Linked DNA regions of Homo sapiens: regions 1 and 3 are each linked to region 2. The links come from fine-mapping of genetic effects on gene expression. A gene starts in region 2. Each other region holds a variant in brackets. All regions are shown on one strand. Distances are from middle to middle.

Region 1 (5,214 bases), 75 kb before region 2:
GCTGAGGCACAAGAATCGCTTGAACTGGAGAGCCAGAGGTTGCAGTGAGCCGAGATCATGCCACTGCACTCCAGCCCGGGCAACAGAGCAAGACTCTGTCTCAAAATAATAATAATAATAATAATAATAATAATAATAATAATAATAATAAAATAAAAATAAATAAGGGAACTTTTGGTTCCTCTGGGGCCCTAAGCCTCAGGCCCCAGATTCCACCAGCACAACAACCCTGTTACCCAGGGCAGAGGGATGCTCCGCATTACGGCTCTTACCGAAGGTTGCTGTACGCCCGAGCCACCTTCCCTGAAATCCGATCGGAGCCAAAGACCACAACACGTAGCGTGGAAGCCTTGGGATCCTCATCTCCACTCAGGAAGGGGCGGCGGCGCTGGGGGCGTGAAGCAGGGGCCAGAAGCCAGCTGGGCAGCTGGGTACCGAGTTTGGGCTGGGGCAGGGAGCGGGAGCGCTGGGCCCGGGAAGGGGGTGATACTGGTTCGTCCAGGGGGCTGCAGAGGCTCCCTGCCCGCCTCAGGGGCAGGGCCGTGTCCGAGCTGCCCTCCAGGCTCCGAGAGTCCCTCCGCAGTACCAGCTGGCTGGTGCTCTTGAAGAGTTTATAGATCCTGATGAACTTCTGCCCAGGCCTGCGGTGGCCTCGGCGTTCCTGGCTGCCACGCCTCCAAGGCCACTCGGAGGAGCTCTCCTCGCTGTCCTCCACGTAGCCGCTGTCCATGCCATCAGAGAGGCCTGAGACAAAGGAAGTCAGCAGATGGCGCGAGAGGGCCGGCCCCGAGGCCTGGGAGGATGCAAGGGACAAGGTGGAGTCATGGGACGCCAAAGAGCTGGTGGAGAGCAGGGAATCTCTCTCGGCACAGTGCCCGTCAGTTTCCAAGTCCTCCTCCACCTCCTCCTCCTCCTCTTCCTCCTCTTCATCATCTCCCAGGATCCCTGGCTGGAGTAGCTCCTGTTCCTTGAGCAGGATTTCCTGCAGGATGTCTGCAGGGAAGCAAGGCCAGCACTGTCTGGGCGTCTGGGCCCCGGATCCCCTTCTATATTCCCTTTGGAGGGGAGACAGCAGGACTCAGGGCCAGCCCAGGACTCCTAGCACTGCCCCCTTGCTCTGCTTAGAGCCTGCTCATGTGGGAGAGCTTTGGGGACGGGGTGGGAGCTGCATGGACCCAGGACCAGAAACACAGCTCAGGCAGTGTGGGGCATGGGTGTCACCAGGGCCCCGGCTCCTTACCAAAGCTGTCCTGGCTCCAGCTGTAGGTGTAGCACCTGGCGACAGGGATGGGGATGGTGTGGAGCTTCCCTGGTTTTGCAGTGTCTGTAAGAACAGGGAGGATAGGAGAAGAGGGCTGGGAAGAGGCCTTGGAGATTGGCCAGTCCAGTCCCCTTGCCTTGGAGAAGAGACCAGAGATGGGACAGGATCGGCACAAGGATATGTAGCTGGATAGGCTGAGGCTGAGTTACAGCCAGGGTGCCAGGCTCCAAGCCAGAGGCCCTTCTTTCAAGCACACCATGTAGATGGCATGCCCTTTATGAGCTGTGCGAATGTGGCCAAACCACAACCTCTGAGCCTCATTTTACAATGTGCCCATGGGAGAATAATAGTACTAGCCCAGAAGGTTTTTATGAGGAATATTGTAACAGGGAATGCTAATGGTTCCTCAAAGTCTGTGCTCCCTTCTATGGTACTGGAGTCATAGAGACGATGTTTCCCAGGCTCCTTTGGGGCAAGATGTGGCCACGTGACCAAGGCGGGCTCAAAGGAACATGAGCGGAAGTGATGTGCCCAGCTTCTGCATCACCTTCAACAGAAAAGCCCAGCCTTTGCCCTCGTAAGCACTCTCTTTTCCTCTTCCCACAAGCTGCCATCATGATAGCACCCCCACCCTGCCCCTATAGACAGGAATGAGACACCCTAGGGGATGGCAGAGCAGTGAGATGCTGAAGAAGCTGAGTCCCTGAGTGACTGTGTGGAGCAGAGCCACCAGGCCCGCCTGGACCGTGCACCTTGGGACCTAGAATAGGCCATGGGGAATGTGGGAGAACCCCATTCTCCCAAGAGCCTCACCTAACACCCCAGGGAAGCCAGCTTTTTCTCCCACCGCCTGCAGCTTGGTCCTGAGCCACCGCCGGGCCTCTGCAGCATCCCCGATGCCAGATGCCAGCTCCTGTGCCTCTGCGGTCTCCGTGAAGATGTCCTCAAGCTCTGCCAGGGTCTTGGCCTGAAACCCCAGGAGGAGATGGGCTTTGCTCCTGGACCGTGAGCTAGCTGTCCACCTGTTCCAGTTGCTAGCTTCTTACTGAGGGAGGCAGTGATCTGTCCCCTCCCAGCCTCATCACCCATCTCCTACCCACAGCTGGCCAGGCAGCCAGGCCTCTCCCTGCCCTTCCATTCTCAGGAAATGGTCAGGAGAGAAAGATCCAGAGCCACGGCACTGCAGTTAGGAGGGACTTCAGCGCTCCTCACTGTACCCCATAGAGGGGAAGGAGCTGTGTGGGGTGACACAGCCGACCTGTGACACCTGTGACAGAGCCAGGCCTAGATGCCAGGTCTTCAGCCCAAAGCTCATTCTCGTTCTTATGGCATATGCCATCTTCTGAGGCACCAGTTATCAGCACCCAGTCCTACTGCCCAGGCTGCCACCCAGCTGGTTAGGATCCAGCACACCAGAAACACCCTCTA[T/C]GAGGTCAGCCCTCCAGCCACCACCCTGCCATGTCACCTGGGTGCAGGAGACTAAGTGTACCCTGGAGACCGTGGCTGAGATGAAGCAGGGAGAGGGTGCTACCTCCTCAGAGAGGTGCTCCACCAGAGCCCCAGGCCCCAGGTACATACCTGTAGCCTGCAGTGCAGGCCCGGGACGTCACAGTGGGCCCCAAAGGTGGCCTGGAAGGCGTGCAGGAGCAGGGTGGTGTAGGCACTGTGAGGCGAGTGTCCGGGCGTACTCAGCTTATTGGCTACAGCAAGGAACTCGGCCTGCACTTCCACTGGGTTCAGCAGCAGCACGGTGCTGGGGACACAGGGGACCGGCTATGGCACCCAGGGGTGCGCAGCATGCCACAGTGCAGCCACCCCCCTCGTGCCTGCTGGTGCTCAGCTCCACTGAGACCAGGGCCTCCTCAAGCCCAGGCAGAGCTCGAGGAGGTGACCACAGGAGGCCAGGACAGAAGCAACAGCTCCAGGGTCCAGGTTTCCAGGGGAAAGCGTGGGGTTCACTGCTGAGCATTTTTCAGCTGTTGTTTTCAAAGATCTTTTCAAAATTGAACTTAATTCTTTAAAACTAAATTTACTTAATTTTTATATAAACGTTTTTTCCTATGAGACAGCTGAGTGGATGCAAGATTACTCAAATGAGGATCATATTTTAGGCAAGGTGACTTGAAGCCAAGCGATCAGTTTTCAGGGGGAGCTGGACAGCAACGTGGTGCTGTGCAGTGTGGTCTGGGGCGAGCGGGACATGAAATTCCTCGTGCCGTGGGGCTGCATCTGCCCGGAGGAGGGGATGCCAAGTCAGAGTGCATCTTCTTCCTGAGCTTATGAGGGACACCTTTTCTAATCAGCCCAAAGCCATGATACAGGCTTTCACTGGCTGGGAGGGGACTGTGTGCCTGGCCACTGCTACCTCCCTTCCCGATGGATACCCAGATTCCCTCTTGGTGCCAGTGTTTACATTTCTTTATTATGGAACCTTTCTCTTTTTTTTTTTTTTTTGAGACGGAGTCTTGTTCTTGTCACCCAGGCTGGAGTGCAGTGGCACGATCTCAGCTCACTGCAAGCCCCGCCTCCCGGGTTCACACCATTCTCCTGCCTCAGCCTCCCAAATAGCTGGGACTACAGGCACCCGCCACCACGCCCAGCTAACTTTTTTTTTTTTTGTATTTTTAGTAGAGACAGGGTTTCAATGTGTTAGCCAGGCTGGTCTTGAACTCCTCACCTCGTGATCCACCCGCGTCGGCCTCCCAAAGTGCTGGGATCACAGGCGTGAGCCACCGCGCCCGGCTACTATGGAAACTTTCAAACATACCCCAAATTAAAAGAATCGTGGGCTCTGAGGCGCTGATCACTCTGTTTACAGTTAACAACGCACGGCTGTTCTCACTTCCCCCATGCCAACCCCTCCATCACTGCATGACCTCGAAGCAAATTCGAGCCATGGCGGCTTTGTATCCATAAATGCTTTAGTATGAGCTGCATGTGATGAGAGCTCTTGCTCTCTCAATTCCACACTGCGTTTAAACCCAGTGCAAAGGAGCACCACGCAGGGCAGCATTCCCTCCACACTCTGGGGACGTCGGTGCCCGGGGACAGGGCAGAGACAGGACTAGTCTCTGTCAAAGTCCCCATCATTTGGGAAGAAACTCACTTTGATTTCTCTATCTGTAAGAAAAAGGAGGTGGGCTTGTATAAGCAGCCCCTTACAACCTTGTAACGAGCCCAGCCGAGCCCCTGCCCTCACCAGCTTGCATAATTTCTCTCCCGAAGAATTTATCATCATTCTCAATTTACAGATAATGAAAGTGAGACCATCTCCCAACTGTAAGCTCTTTCTACAAATCTCTCGGTGCCTCACTTCCCTTATGTGAAAAATCCCTTTCTCACGGGGTTAACGTGAGGATTAAATGAGTCAGCACATGTAACCATGCTTAGGATGGTGCCTGGAGTCCGAATAAAGGTCTAAAGGGCTTTGATGATTCTTCATCAGCCCACCTGCCCCAGCTCCCCCAGAGGAATCTTATTTACTTACTAAACTACAACATTTTAGCATCCTTTCCCTCTGTCTCAACATCTATCATTTTGTTTGTGTTTGTTTTCACCTAGAGGGAAGTCAAGAAGTGTTGCTCAGGGGAGTGAGTGGGAAGTGAACCCCTGGGGCTGGGAATGAGGAGGGCCGGGGGCCTATAATTTCTGAGGTGGTGAAGGCCGGGGTCCCTGGGCTCCCAACATGTCAAGGTGAGACAGCACCCAACTCTTCAAGGCCTGCAGAGGGTCCTCCTAATGGGCACCCCCTCTCTAGTGCTTTTCAAACTGCAGGTCAGGACACAGGAGTGGGTAATGAAATCATCTGGGGAGCCAAATTTGTTTCTTAAATGAAATAGAATAGAACAGAGCTCATCCTATGTAACCAGGATACATTTCATTTCAGCTGTGTGTGTGTGTGTGTGTGTGTGTGTGTGTGTGTGTGTTTGTGTATCAGGCTGTCATATAAAATG
Region 2 (5,214 bases):
AAGATGCCATCAATTGTAAGATGCACCGTTATTTTGTGTGGCAATAAGGAAGAAATATTGTTGCCTATTATAATTGGAAGATGCCATAAACAGTAAAATGCACCTTGATTTCAGTGAAATTCATACAATTAGCACATTCAGTGCTAAAATGTGAAAATATGTACATCTTCAAATTGATGAAATATTTTACTATGTAATATATGTTTGCTACGGGAGGGTATCATCTTCCCTTTGGGCAGAAGTCAGATGTACTCTTTCCTTTCTCTCCTCCCACCCCATCTATATCTGAGGCTCAAAAATCAAATTAAACACCTCTCCCTTGACTTGTTAAGGATCACTCTATCTTCTTCTTCCAGGAGCTTTCTCTGTTTTTTAAATTTTATTTTTTGTTTTTGTAAAGACAGGGTCTCACTCTGTTGCCCAGGCTGGAATGCAGTGACACGATCATAGCTCACTGCAGCCTCGAACTCCTGGCCTCAAAGCCTTGGCTTCCCAAAGTGCTGGGATTATAGGCATGAACCACTATGCCTGGCCAGCTTTCTTTCTTAACACATTGGTTCAGGCTTTTAGCTCACCAGCTGAGGCCAAACAGGCATTCTGGTTCTCAGAGGTCCCACAGGGCCACGCAGCTCAGTCCCTTGGGATGAGCATCTTTGAAGAAAGGCCAAGTCAGCACAGCTTGAGTGCTCAGTGGAACCCAAGCTGGGGCTTCCAAACTCTAGGCTACCCAGGCAAAAAGGATCCTGGCTCTCCTCCTCTCCCACTCCTCAGCCAGCAGGCCCCTGATGGATGGCTAACACAGGGGTATGGAGCAGCCTGCACCCCTGCCTTCTCATCCTCATGCCAACATCAACCCCAAATGCTCTTGTCACCCAGTGCCACCAGTTAGCATCCAACCTATTCTTCTTCTTCTTCTTCTTTTTTTTTTTTTGTTTGTCTGTTTGCTTGAGATAGGGTCTCTCTGTGTCTGCCAGGCTATAGCGCAGTGAAGCGATCATAGCTCACTGCAGCCTCGAACTCCTGGGGTCAAGCAATCCTCCCACTTAAGCTTCTCGAGTAGCTGGGCAACCTGTTATTCTTGAGGGCAATAATCAACAGTGAATGGGAGGGAGGAAAGGCAAGCAGGGAGGCAGAGACTGTCTGCTTCTACTGCAGCCTGAGGAGGGAAGATAATGAATCATCCCTCTCGTAAGCTAGAGATGAAAGGAGGGAGGTTCTTAAAACCCTAATGAGGCTCAGCACACAAAGACCCCAAGCCTTCCTGCCCTCACAGTCCTGGTTTGTGAGGCTTCAAAAAGCAGGGGAGGGAGCCCTGAAGCAAGAAAGTAGCTTGACCATCCAAAACTGTCTTCTTTGTCTTCCACGGGTCCACAGGCAAAGACCCACACCACCACAGCCACAACGAGGAAACACGGAAGCCAGCGTTCTACAAACATCCACGGAGCATCTCCCACGTGCAGCCGTTCTCATCATACATGCCTCACTTAATTTTCCACACTGGGCCAGGCACAGTGGCTCATGTCTATAATCCCAGCACTTTGGAAGGCCAAGGTAGACGGATCGCTTGAGCTCAAGGAATTTGGGACCAACCTGGGCAACATGGCAAAACCCTGCCTCTACAAAAAATACAAAAATTAGCTGGGCGCCGTGGTGCTGACCTGTAATCCCAGCTACTTGGGAGGCGGAGGCGGAGGATTGCTTGAGCCTGGGAATTTAAGGCTGCAGTGAGCCATGATCACGCCACTGCACTCCAGCCTGAGTGACAGAGCAAGACCCTGTCTCAATAATAATAATAATAATAATTCCACACAGCTCTATGGGTCAGTATGACAGCCCATTTTATGAATCAGGAGACTGAGGCTGGGTTGGGGGACAGTGTGATGCTGCAGGTCACACAGCTGGATCCGGTTGGAACTTGGGTCTCTTTTCCACATCATGCATGGTTCCCAAGCAACGGCTTCAGCATCATCACTTAAGGAGCTCATTCAAAGTTTTGAAAACTACAGATTCCAGATCCCATCCCTGGAAAGCCACGTTGTAGGGTTGGCTCCAAGAGAGCCCTACCTGCAGTCAGCTCTGGGAGCCAGTGCCTTACAGGTGGTCCTGAGGGCAGGAAGGAAAGTGTGGGGTGGATGAGAAGACACAGAAGGAAAACGAGGGTGTCAGTCCAGAGAGGACCTTGGAGGCAGGCTTGGCCTACTTTTAGCCCTTATTCTGCCTAAACCCACCCCTCCTCTCTACTCCGAGTCTTGTTAACTCGCTTTATACCACATCCTGCTGCTTTAACCTCGCCTTCCTTTTCCTTCTGAACAATCTCCTTCCTCCTACTGACCTGAACTTTTTGTGTATTTACCCCAGGCCGGGATGGGCCAGCACGCGCACATGCGCATGCCCACACACACACACACACACACACACACACGAGTCACGCGGGGATGTCCAGTGTGTAAACACAGATCCTCTGAGAGCAGAAAGCGTGCAGTTCTCTAGGACAGCAGCCGCGTCTGGGCCCAAGGCTGGCTAACTAGCAGGCTGAGTGAGGCTCGACGGAGGGCGCCTTACGCGGGCACTTCCATGACTCCCAGGTTCTGACGGCACAAGAGCCCTGATGCCCACGCTCACGGACAGTTCCCCGCTGGAGCGGGCAGGGGACCTGACCCTACGACACAGGGCGTCCTGTGTCAGAGGCAGGAGGCTGAGGACACAGCTGCGCAGAGCCGCCCAGCAGAGGTTACCCGGATAACGATAAGTGGTCCCCGCGACGCCCCTTAAGTCTCTGGGGTTATCTGGAGCGCAGGTTTGCAGACCCGCTGCCCCCGCGGTGGGCCAGGTCCACGGGGCCGGAAGATAGCAGGATCTGTCCAGCCCTCGGGCTGCGGCGGCTGCTCGCGGAGCCCACTCTCCCCGACGGTCCCCAGCTTGCTCCAGCTCTGCCTGGAGCTCCCATGCGTGCCCTCCGCATCCGCCCTGGCCGCCCAGTCACACACCTGCAGTCCCCGCCGGGCGCCGAGCCCCTCTCCAGCGGCGACTCCCTGCGATTCGGGTGACCGTCGGGACCACCGCGCCCCAGCTGGAGCCGCGCGGCGAGCCGCAGCATCTGCCCAGCCTGGGCTCCTCCGGCGGGCGGGGCGGAGCCTGTCAGGGGGCGGGGCCTAATGGGGCGGGGCTGACCGCGGAGCCGGCCTCTCCAGCCACCTGGCGGCCCGGCAGCGTCAGCCAGGTGCGCGCCCGGCCCCACATCCTCTGGGTCACGCCCCCGAGGCCGCAAGGCGTCTGAGAAGCAGCCCCGGCTCTGACCCGCCAGCCCTCGGAAGAAGCAGACCCTGGCCGGTCCATGGCAGTGGCCCGAGGGGCACCAGCGCGGAGCACCAGCGACCCCCAAGGAGTAAGGGGAGGTTAGGCCCCCGCGTCGGAAGCGCGGCTTTGGCCCCGCAGGAGGGCTGGGCGGAGCAGGGGGGCAGGTCTGGGGTAGGGGCTTAGGGGAAAGACGAGAAAGAGGAAGCTCCGACGAGCTGCTTCCTTCTCTCACTGCGACCCACTTCCTCTTCCTACTTCTATTTTCTTTCTTTTTTTTTTTTTTTTTTTTGAGATGGAGTCTCGCTCTGTCGCCAGGCTGGAGTGCAGTGGCACGATCTTGACTCCCCACAACCTCCGCCTCCCGGGTTCAAGCGATTCTCCTGCCTCAGCCTCCCGGGTAGCTGGGACTACAGGCGCGCGCCACCACGCCCAATTTTTTGTATTTTTACTAGAGACGGGGTTTCACCATGTTGGCCAGGATGGTCTCGATCTCTTGACCTCGTGATCCGCCCGCCTCGGCTTCCCAAAGTGCTGGGATTACAGGCGTGAGCCACTGCGCCCGGCCCCTACTTCTATTTTCTTTGGGTGCCCTTAACCCTTAAAATGCCTGCACTACTGCTGTGCAGACGGGCACCTTGACCCGCATCCTTCTGCAGGAACCTTCATAGAAATACCAGCCAGTCCCGGCGTTCAGCACTGCTGTTCCAGCCTCTGGCTGGACTTCCCGCCCTCCCTGGCCGGCACCAAGGCTACTGTCACCTGAGTGGTTTCCCCAGCCCCTGGGGAAGGGAGTGAGGGTGTGCGGGAGTTCCTGCCTCCAGGGTCAAGGCCCTCTTCTTGCCTCCCCCTTTTCTCCCCCAGACGACGTTGCAGATGATGCTCTACCAAGAGTTGGAAGGACTCCCCAGGGAATCCCACAAGACACTGCGCTTCCTATGCCTCCTTTCCCTCGTTTAAAAAATGGGGATAAGAAGGTTGGCTACTGCTCCGACAGCCCTCACAATGGAAGAGTAGCACTTCATTTGTGGGTTAACAAAGGGCAACGCTGAAATCTCCACTTCCACTATTGAATGGAACTGTGTCATAATATCTGTTAGAGGCGTGCAAACTCGGCCACAAGGTCATGGTCATACGTTATTGTTGGTCAAAAGCCGCAGCCCTACCTGAGGCTTTGAGAGATATGAACACCAATGACTTTTCTTTTCCTGACTCCCGAAATACCAAGAAAAAGCAACTTCCCCAAATGGACAGAAACAGAAAGTACCCTTGGTTGAACACAGAGGCCTGGTTCCAGCCATCGTTAGACGTGGGAAGGAACTCAGACCCCCTCTCCTACCTCATCCCCAACCCCTTCCCCACACGTCACCCTTTCACAGAGAAGGAACCAGAGCCACCAAGGGCTGAGAGAGGACTTGATAAGGATTCCAGTCTTCTGTCTCCCCTGTCCCCACTTTTTCCACCACAAAAATATGGACATTTGGAAGAAGAGGAGAAGAGGGAAGGTACACACTGTGCAAAGGAAGAAAATGGCAGAAATGCTCTGGAATCAGGAATTCAGGAGCAAGAATGACACTGTGTGCCAGATGGAAATGTTGGATTAGGAGAGCACTTGGAAAGGCAAATAATCTGCCAGAGAAATTATGGGATGCCTGCCTTCTGAAAATGGAGGAAAACTGCAAAAGAGTGGCTCATTGGTGCTCACTCCTAGGGCTCTGAGCATCCCAAGAAGCCAACTTGGTCCCATCGTACATCCCCTCAGAAGTAGGCATTCTCCTCTCCACCTACAGCTGTGGCCCAGATGTGGAGCCTGCATGTTATGCCACGCCGTCAACACTGAGTTCTGTCTGCGTCTCCCTGTCACAGATCTGATCAGCACCTGACACCTATCCATTCTCCATTTCCCACCTCCCCAAAGCT
Region 3 (5,214 bases), 83 kb before region 2:
CTTCTAAGAATCTCAGATTCCAAAAGGAGATCAAGAGAGAATCTGTGCCGGGTTCTGAGAGTAGACAGGTCCAGCGTTAGTGCTGTTTTTCTGGAGACTCAGGAAACTTGAGAGAAATTATTGAGGTGTGTGCGTGTGTGTGTGCGCATGTGCGTACATGCATGCCATGTGTGTGTGGTGTTTGCAGGGAGAGGTGGTCTTGAAGTAGAGAAATGTTTCATCCACATTTCAATCACCTGAGCCCCACAGAGGAGGGGACTGAACTCCAGACATACAGGGTCCTCAAGTCTTTGGCAAAGTAAGGGGTAGGCTCAGCCAAGGTTGAGAGAAAAGGCCCAAGCCATCCCCCTGAGCACCAGAGCCTCAGATCTTCCTTCTAGAAAGGATCCTAGACCATGCTAATGGTCAGGGACTTCAGAGGTCAATTTACCCATCCTTCTCCTTCTACTGCCAGGAATCTAAGAGGCTATGGGGTCTGGCCCTTCTCTCTCTGATAGCTGTTGCTTTCCCAGAACCCTGAGGCCCCAGAAACCCTCTACTCCCAGCCCCTGCTCATTGCAGGACCCACAGTGGGACTATGGCTCTGCACAGGGCCATTCAGTTCTCCACAGAGAGGGACTGTCCTGGAGGGGTGGCCGAGGAGGTTGCCCCAGGGCTTCTGTCCAGTCTGGCGCTGGGCCCACACTAGGGCAGAGCTCCACTGAAAGTCATGATGGGCAGGCAGAGAAGGGAGCAGAGATCAGGTGCGGCCTGGGCCGGCAGGTCAGGAGGCGTCTGGGGTGGTGAGGAGAGGTCGCTCTTCTCTGGCTTGTAGCACGGTGAGACCTCACATCTGTGCAGCAGGGCAGGGGCCAGGGATCAGAGCAGGCCCCCATCCTTCCAGCTCCTTCCAGGCCTCTGGGTTGGTGGGAGCAGAAACTGCTCCCCTCCCTAGGACCCCCCTTTCCTACCTGACTACACTCTGCAGGATCTTTCTCTCATCCTGGTCCAGGCACACAGCAAAGGGGCAGCTGTTGGAGCCGATGATCTGCACCTTGTCCACTTTGATCTGCGATGTGCTAATCTGGAAGGAAGGCCCAGGTCAGCCCCAAATCCCTGGCCATCCAACACTGCCAGCCCCTGGCAGTTCCTTTTCTCAGAACTGCCCATCCACTTCTAGGGGTGTGGGAGGGCAGGGGTTTGTCTGACTGCGCTCCAGGGTTAATGGCCAGGTCACAGGAGGGAGCCTGAGGCCTCCATCAGCCCCTGCCTCCTCTCCAGCATCTGGAAGAAGCAAGTGCCCCCTGAGGAGACATTGCCCTGCCTGCTGCCCTCACCGGAGCAGCCCCAGGTCCCCTGATCCAGAGCCTGCTTTCTTTGGTCTCAGAGTCTTAGGACTCTCCTGGCACCCACCCCACAACTTTTCCACATACACGCGTCCTCTCACAGGGCACCCCTACCTCCCCGACACCCCGCAACACTCCACACCTGTGTGCATCCCCAAATCATACCCCTCACCCTGCCTCTCCTCCCCCACCTCTCCTCTCTCTCTCACACACACACAAGTATGTACACACGGGTGTGTATGTGCACACATGCACACACATACATGTGCACACACACGTACACACATACGCACATGCACGCTCCAGTAAGTCTCTTGAGGGTATGGCTGGAAGGAGAGGGAAGCCCGTACCTGGTTAAAGCCCTTCTTGGATTTGGAGTTCTGCCTTTTCACCACTTCTGTCAGGTTTAGCGTCAGGGCCTCCATGCTGGAATCTGAGGGGCAAGGACACTCAGGCCAGGCTCAGAGCACCTCCCTACTGCACACCCCACACTGACCACCCCACTCACCCAGCTCCTCCTGCTTCCGGCAGGCCTTGTTGAGGTTCACGGAGGTACAGACCTTCTCCAGGTTGCTCCAGCGACTTCGTCCACTGATGGCCCCCTGGAAATGCAGTGTAGCCAGACCCTCTGAGTCCAGAGGCCCCGGTGCCTGCTGCCTTCTCTTTGAAGGCCCATCAGTGACAGGGGGTTGCCTCTAGTTAGCATATCCCCAGAAAGCCCTCTCTTATTCACCAGGGCCCCTGTACCACCCTGGATAGACCTGGATGACTCCAGGGAAGAGCTCACGTCACTGGCTTGGTCTAGGGGTCAGCAGCCTCTGTGACCAGGTTGAAAGGTACAAGAGCTGAGAGCACCTGCAGGGGTGGTCCTGAAGCTCTCCTGCCGGGCCCAGAGTGAAGAAGGGTTGGGCCCACAGACATGCTGTTTCTGGCAGAGCCAGACCTGAACCCCCTCTTCAAGTCTTTGTGTGAATGTCTCTGTCATCAGGGACCTCCATGTTGTTAAACCGAAGAACACTTCTTGGTCCTCAGCTTACTTGACCTTACAGTTCACTGCTCTCCCCTCCTTGAAAACCTCTCCTGGGCTTTCGTGATGGCACCTTCCTGGTTTTTCTAGCGCCTCTCTGGCTGGTGCCTCTCTGCTTTGCTGGATCGCTGCCCTCTGCCCGCCATTACATCATGAAGGGCTCAAGGTTCTCCCCTTGGTCCTCTGCTCTTTGTATTCCCTGCTTCCCCCCTTCAGGAGTCTCCTCCGTGACCTTTTTCCATTAGCAGCTGTCCACCCATCTTCATATTCACCACAAAGTCAGGCCCGTTCAGCCAGCCGTCTATTCTCACTGTCTCCTTATACCTCTCAAGGCCTCTCAACCTCAATAATATGTCCCGACCCAAACTCAAGCTCTTCCCCAACTGGACCCCGGCCTCTTCCTGTGGTCCCCCCAGAGAAGATGGTGCTGCCAGTCACAGAGGAGTGACTCCAGGAGTCTGGCCTCTCCTTTCCTAACCCATCCATGGGCCCTGCTGATTACATCACTCACATCTGTCTCCCATTCCTTTCCAGCTCTGCCACCACTACCCTAGTGCAGGCTGCTGCCCTAATTTCTCTTCTGGACCATGGCAACAGCCTCCTAACTGGCCTTCCTGCATCACTTGTGGACCCTTCCTATCTGTCCTCCACAGAGCTGCCAGAGGGAGCTTCCAAGCCTCAGATATAATCATGTCACAGGCATTCCCAGCCCCACCACAAACATAAGCCCCCTTAATGGATATCCACTGCTCTTAGGACTAGGATAAAATTCCTTTCATTGGGTCGGGCGTGGTGGCTCATGCCTGTAACCCCAGCACTTTGGGAAGCCAAGGCAGGTGGATCATGAGGTCAGGAGTTCGAGACCAGCCTGGCCAAC[G/A]TGGTGAAACCCCGTCTCTACTAAAGATACAAAAAATTAGCCGGGTGTGGTGGCGGGCACCTGCTACCCAGCTACTCAGGAGGCTGAGGCAGGAGAATTGCTTGAACCAGGGAGGCGGATGTTGCAGTGAGCCAAGATTGAGCCATTGCACTCTAGCCTGAGAAACAGGGCGAGACTATGTCTCAAAAAAACAAACAAAAAACCACAAAACTCCTTTCATTGCAATTAAGGCTCTTGGTATGCTGGTCCCCCATTTCTTTAGCCTCACCTCAGCATCATGTTCCCACCAGCTGTCTCTGCTCCAGCCTGGGGGTCTTCTTTCAGAGTGCTTCAAGGTGTTCACACTGCCTCCCACCACAGGGCCTTTGCACATGCAGTTTCTGCTGCTGTGAGAGCACTCACCTCTCTTCTCAGCCTAATTAATTCCTGGTTTTCCCTCCAATATTAACTCAGGTGCCTTCTCAAGGAAGCCTTCACTACTAACTCTCCTGACTGGGTTCGGTTTGCCACTTAGGAACATCCCGTGTCCCTCTCCTCATCCATGTGTCACAGTTGTAATTTTACATCGTGTGCATCATCGAACCAATGCCTACCACCCACTCCAGGGGGCCAGCAGGTCTCCTGGGACCACGTCTGTCCTTTGTTCACTCTTAGGAAGGCTCCAGGGCCTAGAACAGTGCCTGGGCTGTGGAAGACGTCTAGCAAGCACCTGGCATGTGGCTACAGTGAGTGTCGGTGCCTCCTGCCCACCTCCTTCACTGCCAAACGCACTGCAGCCCCAACACCACCGTCCATCTGCTGTTTTATTGCTTTGTCATCACTTGCCGCTCTCTGGAATTATCTTGGCTATTTCTTTGTTTCCTCGTTTCTTGTCTGTCTCCCTCCTCTAGACAAGCTAAAGTGAGGCCTAGGCTTCCCTGCTCAACCCCTCTTTTCCCCTGCCCAGCACAGAGGCAGCATGGGCAGGTGCTAAGAGGATATCTTTGGAATGGCCGAAGGAAGAAGCCCACCTGTGAGGCCAAGCTTCCCTCAGCCTGGACCTTGGGATGCGACCTGCTCAGAGAACTCATGTCTTCTGGCATGTCATGGACAGCCCTCCACCTCCCCACAGCTCTCCTCACTCCTTTCTCACGCCAATCCCATCTTGCATGCAGCCTGCCAGGCACACTGGCCCCCCGAGACCCTGGCTTCTCCCTGAGGTGCCTCTGGAAGGCTTCCCTTTCCCCCTTTCAGCCCCAGCCCTGTAGCCAGGCCCAGCAGACCCCTACCCCTGGGCTGCTGCTGAGCGCATTCGGGTGGGGGCAGAGAACATGGTGGGAGAGAGGCTTTGGAGGCCAAGAAGCACAGAGATATCCACTCCTTCCCTTCTCTGCTTCTCTCAGCATCCAGGGGAGCCTGCTGCAGCCTTCCAGCGTAAAGACTGGGGCCCAGGAACACACGAGTCCAGCTCTGGGTCCAAGCTCTGGCGGAGGAAGTATCAGCAGCAGATCCTGGAGGGGAAGGAGCCCCAGCACGGGTCTTACCTTGCTGTAAATAATCTGTAGTGTTAGAGGAACAGCCTCCCGGTCGCCATCGATGCCCAGCCGCTTGCTGCCAGGACCTGTGCCACACACAGACAGACCCTTCACTACCCCTGGCTTCCCCGGCTCCTCACGAACGCAGTGGCCTTGCCTCCCTGGGCCTTACCTCCCCATCCCCTACCACATGGACCGTGACTCCCTAGGGATCTGTCTCACCAAGGCCCTGCCTCTCTCTCTGGCTCCACGTTCTGGGGATCTCCACCTCCTCAGTGACCCCATCACTCCAGGGCCCATCTCCGCTGTGATCACACATTCCCAGGGTCCTGCCTCTCCAGGGCCCCATCTCCGCTGTGATCACACCTTCCCAGGGTCCTGCCTCTCCAGGGCCCCATCTCCGCTGTGATCACACCTTCCCAGGGTCCTGCCTCTCCAGGGCCCCACCTCCTGGGTAACCCTGCCTCCCCA

Alleles and levels. Alleles are on the strand shown, and positions count from the first base shown. SD is a standard deviation of normalised expression in the study named. Not every link is listed here.
As copies of C replace T in region 1, the expression in testis of the gene that starts at base 3,099 in region 2 goes down (moderate effect, 0.42 SD a copy in GTEx).

Evidence for each region. PIP is the estimated chance that this variant, and not a neighbour inherited with it, causes the effect.
Region 1: its variant is fine-mapped to the expression of PIK3R5 in testis (GTEx, PIP above 0.99).
Region 3: its variant is fine-mapped to the expression of PIK3R5 in whole blood (INTERVAL, PIP 0.96).

The regions. Positions count from the first base shown.
Region 1 is chr17:8,887,899-8,893,112 of GRCh38, forward strand. PIK3R5 (phosphoinositide-3-kinase regulatory subunit 5) reads right to left here. Exons shown (of 19, transcript NM_001142633.3): 7 at 2,840-3,014; 8 at 2,075-2,228; 9 at 1,241-1,324; 10 at 273-993. LOC124903922 (a long non-coding RNA gene) reads left to right here. Exons shown (of 2, transcript XR_007065613.1): 2 at 3,890-4,056. Among named protein-coding and RNA genes, the nearest start is that of PIK3R6, 23 kb to the left of the region's middle. RefSeq lists enhancers at 33-841, 842-1,650, 4,427-4,536. The variant T/C (reference allele first, on the strand shown) is at 2,690.
Region 2 is chr17:8,962,609-8,967,822 of GRCh38, forward strand. PIK3R5 (phosphoinositide-3-kinase regulatory subunit 5) reads right to left here and starts at 3,099. Exons shown (of 19, transcript NM_001142633.3): 1 at 2,988-3,099. It overlaps PIK3R5-DT (PIK3R5 divergent transcript), which reads left to right and starts at 3,239. Exons shown (of 3, transcript NR_184080.1): 1 at 3,239-3,395; 2 at 4,159-5,214. RefSeq lists silencers at 3,023-3,342, 3,413-3,512.
Region 3 is chr17:8,879,955-8,885,168 of GRCh38, forward strand. PIK3R5 (phosphoinositide-3-kinase regulatory subunit 5) reads right to left here. Exons shown (of 19, transcript NM_001142633.3): 15 at 4,753-4,829; 16 at 1,834-1,927; 17 at 1,676-1,758; 18 at 951-1,063; 19 at 1-832. The coding sequence ends at 685. It overlaps LOC124903919 (a long non-coding RNA gene), which reads left to right. Exons shown (of 3, transcript XR_007065610.1): 2 at 4,612-5,214. Among named protein-coding and RNA genes, the nearest start is that of PIK3R6, 15 kb to the left of the region's middle. RefSeq lists a silencer at 4,940-5,103. The variant G/A (reference allele first, on the strand shown) is at 3,230.